Linked DNA regions of Homo sapiens: region 2 is linked to region 1. A link means that fine-mapping ties the variant in region 1 to the expression of a gene that starts in the linked region. Tissue or cell type: monocytes after triphosphate RNA. Region 1 holds a variant in brackets; the other region holds the start of a gene. All regions are shown on one strand. Distances are from middle to middle.

Region 1 (8,104 bases):
TTATGTGTTGCTTTGAAATCCAATGGTATATTCACACGTGACATGTCTGGTCACAGATGTCTCAAAACATTTTGTGTCTCCACAGTATAATTAGTTTGCCCTGTAAAATTTAAAGGCAATTCTTTAATTTTAAACTATAGAGGAACAGTAAATTAGGATAAGAGAGAAAGACACAATACCAGGAGTAAATATACTTACATGGTTTCTTCACAATTACAAATTAAGTTCTATGTGGTACTAGTTTATGCCATTCTGCACTCTTCTTCTACAATGTAATTTTTGATGAATCATCTTTTTACTTTTATTTTCCATTCCTTTCCTCTTTTAAATTTTTTAAAAATTTTATGGATACACAGTAGTTATACATATATATGGGGTACATGTGATATTTTGATACAAGCATACAATGTGTAATGATCAAATCAGGATAATGGGGATATTCATCATCTCAAACACTTATTTCTTTGTGTTGGGAACATTCTAATTTCACTCTAGTTATTTAAAATATATAGTGAATTTCTGTCAACTATAGTCACTCTATTGTGCTACTGAACACTAGATCTTATTCCTTCTAATTGTAAGTTTGTACCCATCAACCAACCCTCTTTATCCCCTACTTTCTCTCCCTCACCTCCCTACTATCCTCCTAGCCTCTCTGGTAACCATTATACTCCTCTTTATCTCGATGAGATCAATTTTTTTAGCTCCCACATATGAGTGAGAACATGTAATACTTGTCTTCTTTTTAATCTAGTTTGACAGAAACTGAAAGTAACTACTGTTACAATATGTTACCCCAATATAGCTTGTGGGGTCTTCATCCTTGGAGAGTTTTGAGATGGAAGGAAGGAAGCAGGGGAGGGAGGGAAGCAGGAAATTCTAACTAGACCAAATTTAGCATTTATATTCCAGATGCCAAGAAAAAAAAATAATGCAACATCTTATAGCTCTGCAAATATGCACTCATTTATATCTAAGCATTAGACTAGAAAATTCTAACTAGCTCTACATTTCAACCAAAATTATCAATATGGAAAATATTTGGAGAGACACCAAAAAGTTTAATAGCTTTTGAATGTATATAAGTTGGAAACTTTCAAAGCAACAGAACCCCTCCATGTCATAGTTTACTACTAAATTAATTCACATACACACCTTGTGTTCACCGTTGTATTCCTCACGACTTAAGTTAAAAACCTGATGAAAAGTGGTTAATCTCCATAATGGGTGTTAGCTCCATCTGAAAAAGCCAGCATTATAAAAGGATTAATGCTTCAATTATGCATGGTGGCTAATTGCTGTGATTTGTTATTTTAATGACTGGTCTGCCAAAGAGTTAGGAACCTTCATTAACCCATGCCAGACGGACCCTCAGGAAGTTAGTGCAGAGTCTCTCCTGGGAACAGACAAGGCCTACAAGTCTGATCTCTTCCAGGGCAGGATATCTTGCCTCATTAGTTCTTTTTCTTTTCAAATTAGTCTATTTTTTTCATCACAGAAGTATGATAAGGAAGGCTTGTCTAGTCTGAAAAAGAAACTAAAATCCCTTATGTTCTTGTTAATTTTCCAAGTCACATAACTGAAAAATACAATTTTAGCTCATTTCAAAAGAGTTTTAGGAGTTACTCAGTTTAAGCCAGCAACAGTGTGTTTAAAAAAAGAAAAAAGTTAATCATTGTGTTTTTAAAAAGCTCTGAAGATAGGTCTGTGTTCAAATCCCACCAAAGTCCCTTTATTGAATCGTTTTGGGCATGCTAAATTTTAACTAATTTCTTTTCTTTTTTGAGGGGTTTGTGGGAAACAGGGTCTCACTCTGTCACCCAGGCTGGAGTGCAGTGGTGCAATCACAGCTCACTGCAGCCTTGACCTTTTGGGCTCAGGTGATCCTCTCACCTCACCCTCTTGAGTAGCTGGGCCCACAGGCATGTGCCATCACACCAGGCTCTGTGTGTGTGTGTGTGTGTGTGTGTGTGTGTGTGTGTGTGTGTGTGCGTGCATGTGTTTTGTAGAGACGGGGTTTTGCCATGTTGCCCAGGCTGGTCTCAAACTCCTAGGCTCATGCGATCCTCCTGCCTTGGCCTCCCAAAGTGATGGAACTACAGGCGTGAGCCACTGCGCCTGGCCAACTAATTTTAGTTAAAATAAAATTTCTGGCCAAGGGTGGTGGCTCACGTCTGTAATCCCAGCACTTTGGAAGGCTGAGGCAGGTGGATCACCTCAGGTCAGGAGTTCGAGACCAGCCTGACCAACATGAAGAAACCTCGTCTCTACTAAAAATACAAAATTATTAGGCATGGTGGCACATGCCTGTGATCCCAGCTACTCGGGAGGCTGAGGCAGAAGAATCGCTTGAACCTGGGAGGCTGAGGTTGTGGTGAGCCAAGATTGCATCTCTGCACTCCAGCCTGGGCAACAAGAACAAAACTCCATCTCAAAATAAATAAAATAAAATAAAATTTCCCTCATAAAGTTGCCAACAGGATTTGATGAGACAAAAATGCAAGTAAAATTTAGAACAGGTCTTGGAACATAAAAAAGTCTCATCAAGCTCTATAAACTCTATCTTAGGACTGACTTTGCAAATGTTATTTGCATATTTGTTTAATGGGTTTAATACAAGAAATCAAAAGTTCTTTGGAGATTATCAGTCGTCAGCCTTGTGAAAGAAGCCACAGAATGGTTGTGGTACATTTTCTCTGTTACTATTGTGTGTTACATTTAAATAATTATTTTCTCTGCTACTATTGTGTGTTACATTTAAATAATTATTTAAATCTATTCCTCTACCATTCTTACAACCCCCTTACCAAAAAAAAAAAGTGATTCAAAGACAGAGGGTCCATTTATTATGAAATTGACTAGTTGTCTGAGTCCATAAGGTCAAGTATTTTTTAAAAACCTTTAAAATTAGGAAATTAATTTGATTCCTTAAGACTTTTTCCTTTAAATTTAAGCATGTTACATATACTGACTTAAAATCACTAGAGTGGGGGATTAAATGCTTTCACTGTAAACCTTAACCTCTGTATGTATCATTTCTAATCCAAAACTTTCTCTACTCTATTTAGATCTGTCCAGACTCTCTAAGTAAAAATTATGAAGTTATACCCAATTATAATGTTATTTTCTCTCATATCCAGCCATCCTTGAAATGACCAATTGGACAAGCAACCACAGCTGGACCTAAAGGAATTTTCTTAGATTTATGAGGGGGAGAAAACAGCCACTGAATTTTGGACAATGTTCAGTTTCAATATTTTAAAATGGGTCTGTAGAGAATTGTTTGGTACTTTCGGCTTCACTATTTTTTATGAAAACTAAAAGGGATATTACATTTCTATTTTATGTTATATGTTAATTAATTATCCTACTAATGCGCTAACTCATAGTGAGCAATTGTCTTTTACAAAATGAAATTAATTTACCTGAAAAGAAATCCCATGACATACTAATGAAATTTAAAAGCTAAGTTATATTATATTTAATCCTTAAATTACAACATACTCATAGGCTACCTAGCCAGAAACCCAACTAGAATTGTCAATTCTCCTAATATAAAAAACATTCAAAATTTTTAACTTTTTATGGGTCCATGGTAACTGTATTATTCAGAAGGAACAAGAGATATTTCAATACAGGCAACAATGCATAATAATCACACCCAGGTAAACGTGGTACCCATTACCTCAAGCATTTATCATTTCTTTGTGTTACAAATATTCCAATAATATTTTTTTAATTTAAAATGTACAATAAATTATTGTGACTATAATCACCCTGTTGTGCTATCAAATACTAGATTATATTTGTTCTATCTAATTATATTTTTGTACCCATTAACCATCCCCACTTCCCAGCCCCCTCACCCCACACTACCCTTCCCAGCCTCTGGTAACCATTTTTCTACTCTCTATCTCTATGAGTTCAATTGTTCTCATTTTTAGCTCCCACAAATGAGAACATGAGAAGTTTATCTTTCTATGCCTGGTTTATCTCACTTAACATAATGTCCTCCAGGTCCAGTCAAGTTGTTGCAATAACAGGATCTCATTCTTTTTTATGGCTGAATAGTACTCCATTGAGCATATGTACCACGTTTTCTTTATCAACCTGTCTGTTGATGTACACTTAGGTTGTTTCCACATCTTGGCTATTGTGAACACAATTGCAAAAAAAAAATGAGGGTGCAGATATCTCACTGATATACTGATTTCCATGATTTTGGGTATATATCTAGCAGTGGGACTGCTGGATCATACAGTAGTTCTATTATTAGCTTTTTGAGGAACCTCCATACTGTTCTCCATAGTGGCTGTACTAATTTACATTCCCAAGGACAGTGAACGAGGGGGTTCCCTTTTCTCCACATCCTCACTAGCATTCATTATTGCCTCTCTTTTGGATAAAAGCCATTTTAAGCGGGGTGAGTTGTACAACAAATTACTGTGACTGTAATAATTTACATTATTCATTCAACTGCAGTGAGAATCACATTCTCATTGCACAGTTTTGAGTCATTTCTCTGATGATCAATGATGTTGAGCCCCTTTTTACATACCTGTTTGCCATTATATGTTTTCTTATTTTTTTTTTTTGAGGTCACTCTGTTGCCCAGGCTGGAGTGCAGTGGCAGGAACATGGCTCACCTCAGCCTCCCAAGTAGCTGGGACTACAGACACATGCCATCACACCCAGCTAATTTATTTTTATTTTTTGTAGAGATGGGGTCTCCCTACGTTACCCAGGCTGGTCTTGAATTCCTAGGCTCAAGTAGTCCTCCCATCCCAGTCTCCCTAAGTGCTGGGATTAGAGGTGTGAGCCACCATGCCTAGCCTGTATGTCTTTTGAGATTTGTATGTCTATTCAGATCTTTTGCCCATTTTTTTTATCAGATTATTAGATTTTCTTTCCTATTGAGTTGTTTGAGCTCCTTATATATTCTGGTTATTAACCCTCTGTCAGATGGATAGTTTGCAAATAT[T/C]TTCTCTCATTCCGTGGGCTGTCTCTTTACTTTGTTGATTGTTTCCTTTGCTGTGCAGAAGCTTTTTAATTTGATGTGATGTATGAAAAAAATTCAAATTTTAGAATAAAACTACAGATATATTTTAGCAGGTTACTAGTATCAAGATAATCTCAACAGATCCAAGACAAAAAAAAAGTGACCTTTAATGAAGAGGAAAAAGTGAGGGCCAAAATGTTTTCTTAATATATATAGTGTATTTCCATTCTAAGGAATATATCTTTATATACTTTAAGGTATTTTAAAATTCCTATGCAGAATCTTGGTTTTCTTATCATTCTTACATATTCTTACATCAAAAAGTATCATAATTTCCTTTAAAGCAAAATTAAATTAGTTGTCTTCAACCAGCCTTCATTTAAATTTTTAACTTGCACTATTGCCAAAACATACAGGCCAAGAGTTTGGAGAAAAAAATAAAGGCAAAGAAAGTGGGGAAAGGCACTGAGGCAATACGAAAACATTCAGAGAACAATGAGTACTGGGTGCAGCAAGAACAGAGGCACCCTCCCTTCTCTAAAGGAACTTAAATGTCGTATTGCATTGGAAACACTAATAAAGAGGCCAGAATATTATAACAAATTATAAAACACCAAGTTGTTCAACATAGGAAATGAGAAGAAAGAGACAGCCGTGAACTACAGACTAACGGTGGGAAGTCTCATGAAGGAGATGGCATTTAAGTCAGAGTCTGGAGTTGAGGTAGAATAACTTGAATAAACAGCAAAGTAGAAGATGGGCATTCTAAGCCAAGAGCAACAAACACAAGCCTTAAAATGGAACAAAGCATAGTATCTTAGCCAAGAGTAGAAAGGCCTGCTTAAAGGATTAAGTAATTAAAGGATTCTTAAAGGAGATGCTAACACACATTTTTTCACTGAATCATGGATTATTATCCATATTTTAATATTTAACATTACTATCCATATTTTATAGGGTAGTAAACTGAGACACGGAAAGCTGAGTATCTTGCCCAGGGCCACATAATTACTTTATGAAGAGAATGTAGCACTCCTTCCACTCCCCACCCTGACTCACCGCAGGGAGCATGAGGTTGGACAGACAGAGTCGGGCAAGGTTATGGAGAAGACTTAATCCATCCACAAGAGGTCCGAGTATGTTGATGAAGTGATGACAGTACTGTTTCAAGAACATCAACCCTGCCGCAGTGAACAGATCTTAATTGACAGTGCTGAGTCAAGAAAACCACTTCAGAAGCTGGTGAAGTAATCTTCGAGAAAAGTGGTGAAAGCTCAGATTAGGGCAGTTACAGTGGGGCTACACAGAAAGAAACGAATACATTAGCTATGACAAAGAGAAGGTGACAAAATTAGTGCCTTGGTGGATGTAGGAGATAAAGAAATGAAGTTTAAAGTGAAAGGAAGTGTCACTCAAAGAAAAACAGATGGCATGGTTTATCACAAAAGTTATCAAGCTGAACACCTTTTCCCCACCCTACTTTCCTCTCCAGCCATTTTCTCCTCCCTCACAAGCCATTTTCTAACTTCTCACCCTATCCTTTCATTCATTCCTATTTTGAAGGCATCCTGTGGGTTGGACAGTGGGTTAACCTATGAGAAACAGAGATCACAAAACAGTAATAGCAACAAAAATATATTCATTAAGTGCTTATTCTATGCATGCAAATCATTGTTCTAAACGCTTTATATTTATTAACTCATTTGACTCCTGCTACAACTCCACAGAGTATGAAAAATTATAATCCCTACTTTAGAGAGGAGGACATTGAGATGAAACCTCACAGTAAATGGGGGAGCCTGGATTGTAACCCCGGCAGTCTGACCCCAGAGCCCACCCACTTACCCTGCTACACTACCCTCAAAACTCAAAAGCCTTCAAGCAGTTTCCATATTTTTGTGGCTTCCATCACAGTACAGTCCCAGAAGTTTCAGAAAAATTGATATAGGAGTGTTTGTAGATTTTAAATCCCTGAATTTTAGAAGTTTACCAATGACAAGACATGAACTTTATCAATTGATATCTTAGTTGTCCAACAATTAGCTATCTGAGAAGAGGGTACCAAATCTATCAAATAATGATACAATTTTCCACTTTGTTTTGACTCTGTGGGTAGTAATCACAAAAGTATATTAAGCAATTTGCACAGTCACAGAACAGTAAAAAGAAAATGCCTGACTCTTAAACTTTGTGATAAACAACAGAAAATTCTAAATATTTAGATCAACCTTGCCATCTTGAGATATAACCTGCATTACCAGATTTGTCCTTCTGCAACTACCTAAACTATGCATTATATCTCAATTATATGTATTATATCTCAATCAGAAAAAGAAACTTGCAAATAGAATTTTCAGCTAGAAACTTCAAAAGCGGATTTTACTTGAAGCAAAATAAGGAAGAAATAAAAAGGATCCAAATCCCAACAGTGAGACAAGTCAAACTGATAACAAACTTGAATCCACAACATGCTTCTAGAGCTCCGGCCAAATTAACCCCATGCGAATAGCAACTATATCCGTCTTAACCACGACTCAAAGTTCAGAAGCAATTAAAGAAGAAATTGATAAACTGGACAACATGAAAATAAAATACCATAAGCAAAGTCATCAATTCCAATATTGGGTATGCATCATGAATTGCCCCACCACTACTCAATTAAAATTGTCCTCTGGAAGGATGCCAATGGTTCCAAATTACTTTCCTCAATCCATCTTTTCATTGACCTCTCGGATGATCACCTCACCCACGTTCTCTTCTCCCTTGGCTTCACTGATCCTCTTTCCCCCTTTCCCTGGTCCTAGATGTCCTTCTTTTCAGGATTATTCTCTAGCTCTACTTCTTCTTCCCAGCCCCTAAAGTGACTCCAAAAGTTCAGAATTAGACCTTCTGTACATTTCTCTCTAAATTCCTTCCCTTAGGGATCCTAACTACCCCCAAAATCTGCTATTCTGAATCTCTCTCCTTAACAGCAGTCCCATAATTGCTTAAAGACATGTTTACATGAATATCCTGGTATTACCTCAAATTCACGTCTTAAACCAAAACTCATCCTCAATCCCGAACTTTACTTCAATATTCTTTCATTGTGCACTCACACCACAC
Region 2 (8,104 bases), 960 kb before region 1:
AACAAGGAGACAGGGGCATTCACCATAAGGGAGGCTGCAGGATCTTCTTTCCTGGACATTTGTCAGAGAATTCTTGCCTTTAAAGGTTTGCAGGCAGGGGACTGGATAAGATGACCTTGCGGCCTTTTCTTCAAGTTCAAGCTACAGGGGAGACTGTGGTCACAGAAACCCCCATCCTATCCCTACATACCTCCTTTCACAAGAGACCAAATTGCCTGTGCAGACAGCTGAGTCTAGGAAACATCATTTCTGATTCTATTCTGTATTCTCAGATACAGATGAATCTCAGTGCCTGCCAGGCACATAGTAGGTGCTTAAAGAGAATCCCTTGATCTGGGAGGAGAGACTCAGCTCTAATCCCAGTCTTTGCCGCTGCTGTGGTGGTGCTTCCACCAGTCCCAGCCTGTGTGTTTAGCTCTGGGGCTGGTGTTATGCAACATGTTCCATGCTAAGACACGCAGGGGGCATTCTGGGGAGACACACACACACACACACACACACACACACACACACGGTTTATTCTGAAACCTTATTTCTGCTCCTCCACCCACATGGGCTCCTCCACCCCTCTCTGCAGTCAACCAGCCCTACCCTGCCTCTTTGCTGAGGTCAGGAGAAATAGGAAGGAGTCAGGCCAGGCTTGGAGCTGGGACGTATGTGTGTGTGCATGTGTGGAGGTGGGAGGTGGGCAGAAGGGGGAAGAAATGAAACCCTGGCAGCTGCAGCAGTCCAGGATTGTGAGCCCATTCCTTCCCCAGCTGTGGCCTGGCTACAGCTCTATGTGACAGGGTGACAAGCAGGTGGATGGGGCAGGGGTAAGGCAGGGATAAAGATAGGGAGGTAAGCTGGAGGATGGAGAGTTGAGGAAACAGGCAAAGGGCGGTGGCCCTGGTTATGGGATGGCCACTAGTTCAGGGATGTCCGTATCTCCCTGGCCCTGCTTTTGGATGGCGCAACTTCAGAAGGGAGAATGTTCAGCTACCATTCTTTTCTCTGGTGGGGAAAGTGGTCAAGGTTGCTGCTAAGGTACCTTCATCCAGCCCATCCTGTGTGCTAGCTTTGGGGCTGTAGAGCTTTGTTGATGGGGGACCCTTTTCTAAACCACCACTCCTCCAAAACCCACCCACACACGCTGCTTCTGCTTATCCTTCTATGAGCTCTTTGAAGGTTGGGATCATTTTTATTTCCTGTGTCACCAGGTTTTATTTTCTGTGTTCACCAGTGCCTAACATACAGTTGACAATGAATACTCAAGTGTTGAATGAAGGAATGTTTGTAGGGCCCTTGGCACACCATACAGCCACGAGCAGCATTCATGTCATCAACCACAGAAAGGAAGTGCCCTTGTCTTCTTAAGCTGCCTGTGAGAAGTCCTTTTTATTTTTTTGAGACAGAGTCTCACTCTGTCACCCAGGCTGGAGTGCAATGGCATGATCTCAGCTCACTGCAACCTCTGCCTCCCGGGTTCACGCCATTCTCCTGCCTCAGCCTCCCGAGTAGCTGGCATTACAGGTGCCCGCTGCCATGCCTGGCTAATTTCTGTATTTTCAGTAGAGATGGGGTTTCACCATGTCGGCCAGGCTGGTCTCGAACTCCTGACCTCAAGTGATCTGCCCACCTTGGCCTCCCAAATTGCTGGGATTACAGGCATGAGCCACCACGCCTGGCCGAGAAGTTCTCTCTGATCTCTACCCCAGGCTCTCCTATCGCAGAGGGGTGTGCTGCCCGGTTTATTTTTTTCTTTTCTTTTTTTTTTTTTTGTTTGAGATGGAGTCTCGCTCTGTCATGCCCAGGCTGGAGTGCAGTGACATGGTCTCGGCTCACTGCAACCTCCGCCTCCCAGGTTCAAGCAATTCTCCTGCCTCAGTCTCCCAGGCAGCTGGGATTATAGTTGCCCGCCACCACGCTCGGCTAACTTTTTGTATTTTTTGTAGAGATGGGGCTTCACCATATTGGCCAGGCTGGTGTTGAACTCCCGACCTCAGGTGATCCACCCGCCTTTGCCTCCCAAAATGCTGAGATTACAGGAGTGAGCCACTGCGCCTGGCCTGCCCCGTTTCTTTCATGCCAGGGCTGGATTTCCTTCAGATCTGCTGCTTGATGTTTCCAAGCCCACCAAAGCCTCCTGACACCAATACTGTATTTTTGTGCCAATTAATTGTTCTGTCTCTCCTCCAAGTGTTTGTGCCTTTTCTCTGCCCCTTCCCCATTGCCTTGACATTTTATGTCTATGCTCCTCTTCCATGAGGGGAACAGCTGGTTTGATGGTCCTTCAAATGAGAGGAAGGAGGTTCTAGCTTGGGGTGTGCCACTTTGTAGTTTTGTGACTTCTCTGAACTTCGGTTTCTTCATCTTTACAATGAGGGTCGTTTTCTCATCCTAACTATTTTTCAGAGCTGTCACAATAATTAAAAAAAAACATACCGTTAATTTAAATTTCTAACCTTTAGCAGTTTCTGAGTGCTTTCACAAACCTGACCTCATTTAATCCCCACATACTCCAGTGAGGTAGATATGGCTAATGTATCCAGTTTACAGAAGAGGAGAAACAGGGTGAAGTAACTTGCCTAAAATCATACCAAGTGGGAGAAGACCAAACCTGGCCTTCTAATTCTAAATCCCAGGAGTACTCCATCTTTCGGGAAAAAAATCCCACCCCAGCACAAAGCCTATGAAATGCTATACAAATATGTGATTACTACTTTGGGGCAAGGATGAATAAGCCCAAAGAAGCATCATGCCTGACGCTGAGTTGGCTGGCCGGTGAAGGCGTCTGTCCCTTCCCTTGGTATCCCTATGACTTACCTGTTGGACAGGTAGGGGGAAGGGGAGAGTAATGAGTCTCACCTGCTCAGAGCAAGGGTGGGGCAAGACACACCCCATCCCTTCCATTGGTTTTTTCCTTAGTCTTACTGACAGAGCCTTGTCCAATCAGGAGGAAGTAACTTTCTATCTGCCAATAGATGCAATGTTAGGATGAGACCTCAAGTTAGAGTCCATCCCTAGAGCCGACTGGCAGTCCCCGGGGCCAATGGCAAGCGGATAAACAGAGGCGGCCGTGGAAGAGGACTGGAGGCGAGGCTCCGCCCCTCCACGGGACAGTCAGGCGAGATAGCCAGTGAGCTCGCACCAGAGGGTGGGCGTCTCCCCCAGGGGCGGAGCTTCGAGGTGGCGAGGGGCGTGGCTTGGCTGTCAGGTCTCTTCGCCTTTTGTTCGGTTACTGAGTTGCTGCCTTGGCCAGAGTCCGGAGCAGCCGCCGCCCGACCACGCCGAGCTCAGTTCGCTGTCCGCGCCGGCTCCCACCCCGGCCCGACCCCGACCCGGCCCGGTCAGGCCCCATACTCAGGTGCGGGCTATCGGGGGCGCAGGTATCGTTGGGGACAGAGGGGTGGCGAGCGGCCGCGGGGCCGGTCCCAGCCGTCCCTGGGCAGGTGAGGGCCGGTGCCATCGAGCGCCACCCTGCACCGGCGGCAGGGGGCGCGCTGGGGTCCTGGGCGCGGCGACTTGGGGGTCGCGCGGTTCGGGCCGAGCGCGCCTCGGAGCTCCGCGAACCAGAGATCTGAGCAAGGCGGGGAGGGATCCGGACAGGTGCCTCCGGGGTCGCGCCTCCCCCGGGGCCCGCGCAGCTCGCCCGACGCCGCGTCCCTGACTCTCGCCCTGGGCTGGCGGGGGAGACTTTGCTCTGCTTCGACTGCGTCCCAGGGCTCACGCTGCAGTCAGGAATTTACCGTTTGGGGAACTTGCTGCCGCTGGTCTCTTTGGGGCCACCCTCACCCCACCCCACGCGTCATCCTCGCTTTCCCTCCCTCCCTACTCCCCCAGGCCTGGGTGGGGCCCTATTGTTTGCGCCCAGCTTGCCCAACTGTGGGGGCCGAGCGCACATTTTCCCAGCGACTCTGGCCCCACCTGCCGAGCAGGTGAGCGCACGGAGTCCAGAGGCCCTGCCCTCCAGCTCCCAGAGCCTCGTCGATACTACCTGCGGCGCCTCCCTCCACGCCGGTGGGAGCCCGGCTCTGGCTTCTTCAGCGGAGGTGGGATGGAGTGACTGGGGGGTGCAGGGCTCGGCTCAGTGTCCAGCTGGTGTCTGGCACCCGTGGCTCGCCCTGGGGTCTGGGGGGTGGGGTCTGTGCACGGATGAAGAATTCAGGGTCACCTGGCCCAGTTTCCAGTAGCTGTGGCTGCCAGAGTGTTGGTAGGGGAACAGGACCCGTCTTCTCTAACCTCTTATTGTTGGAAAAAATCACCCAAAACAAACTTTGCAGGAGGAAGTATTCACAGCAGCTTTATCTGGGGGTTTTCCCGTCTCCTTGCCCAAAACTTCCTTTAGGCTTAGGGGGTCCTTCCTGGTGCAAAACCCCTTCCCCCAGCCGGCCCCTGGCTGAACCTGGGCCGGTGCCTGGGCTCCGACCCTGTCTTCCCTGCCCCCACATTCATCCTGTTCGCTGGGCCCCAGGGGCCTGAGGTAGGGGCCGGGGTGGGGGGTGGAAAGTGCTGAGAGGGGAAGCAGCTTCTTCCTTCTCTTCCTGCCTCCTGGGACCACCACACCCCCTCAGACAAGGCCTGCGTAAGTGGTTGTCTCTCAAGCTCTGCCCCCTCCCCAGGAATGGGGGTGGGGCAGGGCTGGGCCAAACTGAGGAAGGTGGGGGGAGTGGTTGTTCTTGTCTTTTTTTTTTTGCCTCTACCCCATCCCCCACATTACTTAGCTGGCTGGTTATTGAGGCAGAAGCGCATGAGGCTGTGGGACTTGCCTTCCATTTGATTTCTGAATTGTGAAGGTGCATGCTTTCTGGAGGCCTGCACAGACCTTTCCCACCCGCTTTCCTGAAAGAATTTGACAGGGAAAGTGAGACCGCAGGAAGGCTTTTTGGGGGAAGGTTTCTTCAATGCTAGACTCTCTCAGGCAGAGCTGCATCGGGCCCCCTGCCTTCCCTGCTCCCAATTTCCTGAGACCGCCCCCCCCCACCCAGAATTGGGGATCTTGATCAGGGTTTGTACCCCGGTTTAAAAAAAAAATCTGAAATGTGGTCTTTTTGCAGGATTTGGAGCCCAGCCTCGTTGGGGAACAGAGAGAGAATACAACAGTTGGGTTCTCTCTCAGTCCTGGGGGTGGGAGAAAGATTGTGGGGGGCGGGGATCGAGAGTGCTTGGAGGGGAAGAGTCTACCACCTCTTTCTTTGTTGTAGATGGGGGAGTGAGGCTGGGGGCCCAGACTCAGCCCCTTTATCCTGGGTGGGGATCACGCTCAGCCCTGTGCTAGGGGGAAGTCAGTGTGGGAACTCAGATCCTTTTCTGCCGGGGGATGGGATTCTGCACCTCTGGGGAGCAACAGGAGCAGGGAGTTTGGGCAAAAATAACCTGCTTTCCCTCTTCTCTGTGCCAAGGTGGAGGAGGGGAGGGCATTGTAATTATGTTGGCTACATGATTAGTTTAGCTAATCTGGTTTGTGGCTGTGATGAAAAGATAATACTGAGGAAGTACTGCTAGGAGGTGCTTGGTGAAAACTGGCCACTGACTGGACTGGGGGATGCGGGGGAGGAGGAGAAGGTAGGACCCAGTTAGTCATTTCTTGCTAGATCAAGCCCCAGCTTGGGTGACTTGAGCCCTCCCACCCCCACTCCACCCCTCCCTTGCACCCTGGCTCCACCCCATTCCCTCTGGAGCCTCTGTTTGGGCTGCCAGGGCCGAGGCTTTGAGAATGCAGTGCATAGGAACGAAAAAGGTCGGGCTAGGGCTGCCAACCTTTTTCCCATCCTGGAGCCACCTTAGAGTGAGATGGGTCAATTGACTAGTCTACAGAAGGACTGTTTATTTGGAGAGATGGGACAGTGGGGCAGTTCTGAGCACAGGGCTTTGGGCTTGAACTGAGCTGGGTTTGAGACCCAGCTCTGTCTCTCATTACCTGAGCCTCAGTGACCTCTTTGGCAAAATGGGAATACTAATACCTATCTACCCAGTAAGTACTTGACAAACGGTAACTCAAGATCAAGGTAAGACTTTACAGAAACCAAGCACTTTCTTTTTTTTTTTTTTTTTTTTTTTTGAGATGGAGTCTCGCTCTGTCACCCAGGCTCACTGCAACCTCCGCCTCCTGGGTTCAAGTGATTCTCCTGCCTCAGCCTCCTGAGTAGCCAGGATTACAGGCGTGTGCCACCACCCCCGGCTGATTTTTGTATTTTTAGTAGAGACAGGGTTTCACCATGTTGCGCAGGCTGGTCTTGATCTCCTGACCTCGTGATTCGCCCGCCCCGGCCTCCCAAAGTGCTGGGATTACAGGCGTGAGCCACCTCACCTGGCCCAAACCAAGCACTTTCATTAACTATTTTTACTTAATCCTTATGGCTGGCCAGGCTGGATGGCTCAGACCTGCAATCCCAGCACGTTAGGAGGCCCAGAAGGGTGGACTGCTTGATTGAGCCCAGGAGTTCCAGACCAGCCTGGGCAACATGGAGAAACCCTGTCTCTACAAAAAAATAGAAAAATTAGCCGGGCGTGGTGGTGCATGCCTGTGGTCCCAGCTACTGGGAATGTTGAGGTGGGAGGATTACCTGAGCCCAGGGAAGTCAAGGCTGCAGTGAGCTGTGTCACTGTATTCCAGCCTGGGCAACAGAGTGAGTCCCTGACTCAAAAAAAAAAAAAAAACAAAAAAAACGCGTATCATTATTCGCATTCTACAGAGGAGGAAATTGAAACTCAAGGAACTTAAGTAATTTCCCCAATGTTGTACAGCGAGACCCAAGCAGCACCAAGACTGACGTTTGGGTCCTCTGATTCCAAGCCCAGAACCCATCCTGCTGTATTGCCCCATGCAGCTCTGGAAAGGATTTTTTTTTTTTTTTTGAGATGGAGTCACGCTCTGCCACCCAGGCTGGAGTGCAGTGGCGCGATCTCGGCTCACTGTAACGTCTACCTCCTGGGTTCAAGCGATTCTCCTGTCTCAGCCTCCCGAGTAGCTGGGATTACAGGCATGCACCACCACACTAGGCTAATTTTTGTATTTTTAGTAGAGATGGGGTTTCACCATGTTGGTCAGGATGGTCTCGAACTCCTGACCTTCAGGAGATCCGCCCGCCTCAGCCTCCCAAAGTGCTGGGATTACAGGTGTGAGCGGAAAGGATTTTTCTGCACCCCCTTTTGAGAGCCTCTGCCTGACTGGGGAGAAGAGAATTCAGAAGGGCCCATGAAGGCATGTGTGAGTGGTGAATGTAGGGCAGGTTTTGTAGGTGGGGGTGATACCTGTCCTGGCCACCAGCCCACTTAAATCTCCCCAGTGGCTTGATTTTTAGTTTCCGGTGGAAGCGGCTTCTCCCCAAGGCCAGGGCTGTGGTGAGTGTTGGGGGGAGGTTGAGAGGGAAAGAGGAGGCAGGGGTCAAAGCTGTGCTGCCTCCTAGCTTGGGTTAGGTAGAACCATGGCTGTTCTGGGCTTGTTCATGTGTAGGAAGTGGGAGTTGCCTGCTTTGCTGGGGGCTGGGGCTATGCCAAGATAAAGGGGTGCTGCCCTGTGGGGATTGGCGAGAAACGAGAGTCCGATTTAGGCCTGGGCTAATGTCCTGCTGGAGTTGACGAGGCAGTGCTGCCAGGCTGCTCTTGATGGGGAACTGGCTGTCCTCTGCTCTGAAGCCCAAGAGACCTGAGATAGGCAGCTGCTGGGAGGGCTTTTCTGGTGATGGAGGTGGGGGTCATGTGTGCTGCCTGTCAGCCAGAGCCTTGGCCCTCTAGGGAGGAGCTGGTGTCAGATTGTTCTCCAGACCTGCCTGGTTCTGGTGTCTCTGCCAACTGGACATCTGACACCAGAATGGGCCTGGATTTGGGGTCTGGGAAATGGGTTCTCTTTATGTGATGGTGCAGCCGGAGTACTGAACCTGTCACTACCGCGCTTCTGGATTCCCTGAGGGCAGGCGGGGACCCCAGGCAACGGGATTATTGATCGTGGAGAAGGCTAATGGGACTTGAGACAGAGAAGAAAACAGAATGAACCCCATCCCACTGACTACTACAAAGAGGGCATGAGGTTGCAGTTTTTCCATCTCCCCCGAGGACTTGAGAGCTGCAGGCCCGATGCACTTACTGAAGGGACGCAGTCTAGACAGGAGGAGGGGCTTTCTGC

The links. PIP is the estimated chance that this variant, and not a neighbour inherited with it, causes the effect.
Region 2: JUP starts here. The variant in region 1 is fine-mapped to the expression of JUP in monocytes after triphosphate RNA (Kim-Hellmuth 2017, PIP 0.95).

Annotation. Positions count from the first base shown.
Region 1 is chr17:40,826,251-40,834,354 of GRCh38, reverse strand. KRT10-AS1 (KRT10 antisense RNA 1) reads right to left here. Exons shown (of 3, transcript NR_160888.1): 2 at 1,156-1,240. Among named protein-coding and RNA genes, the nearest start is that of KRT10, 7.7 kb to the right of the region's middle. RefSeq lists a silencer at 6,017-6,246 and an enhancer at 5,990-7,189. The variant T/C (reference allele first, on the strand shown) is at 4,982.
Region 2 is chr17:41,781,830-41,789,933 of GRCh38, reverse strand. It overlaps JUP (junction plakoglobin), which reads left to right and starts at 3,223. Exons shown (of 14, transcript NM_002230.4): 1 at 3,223-3,346. RefSeq lists silencers at 3,255-3,554, 3,719-3,931.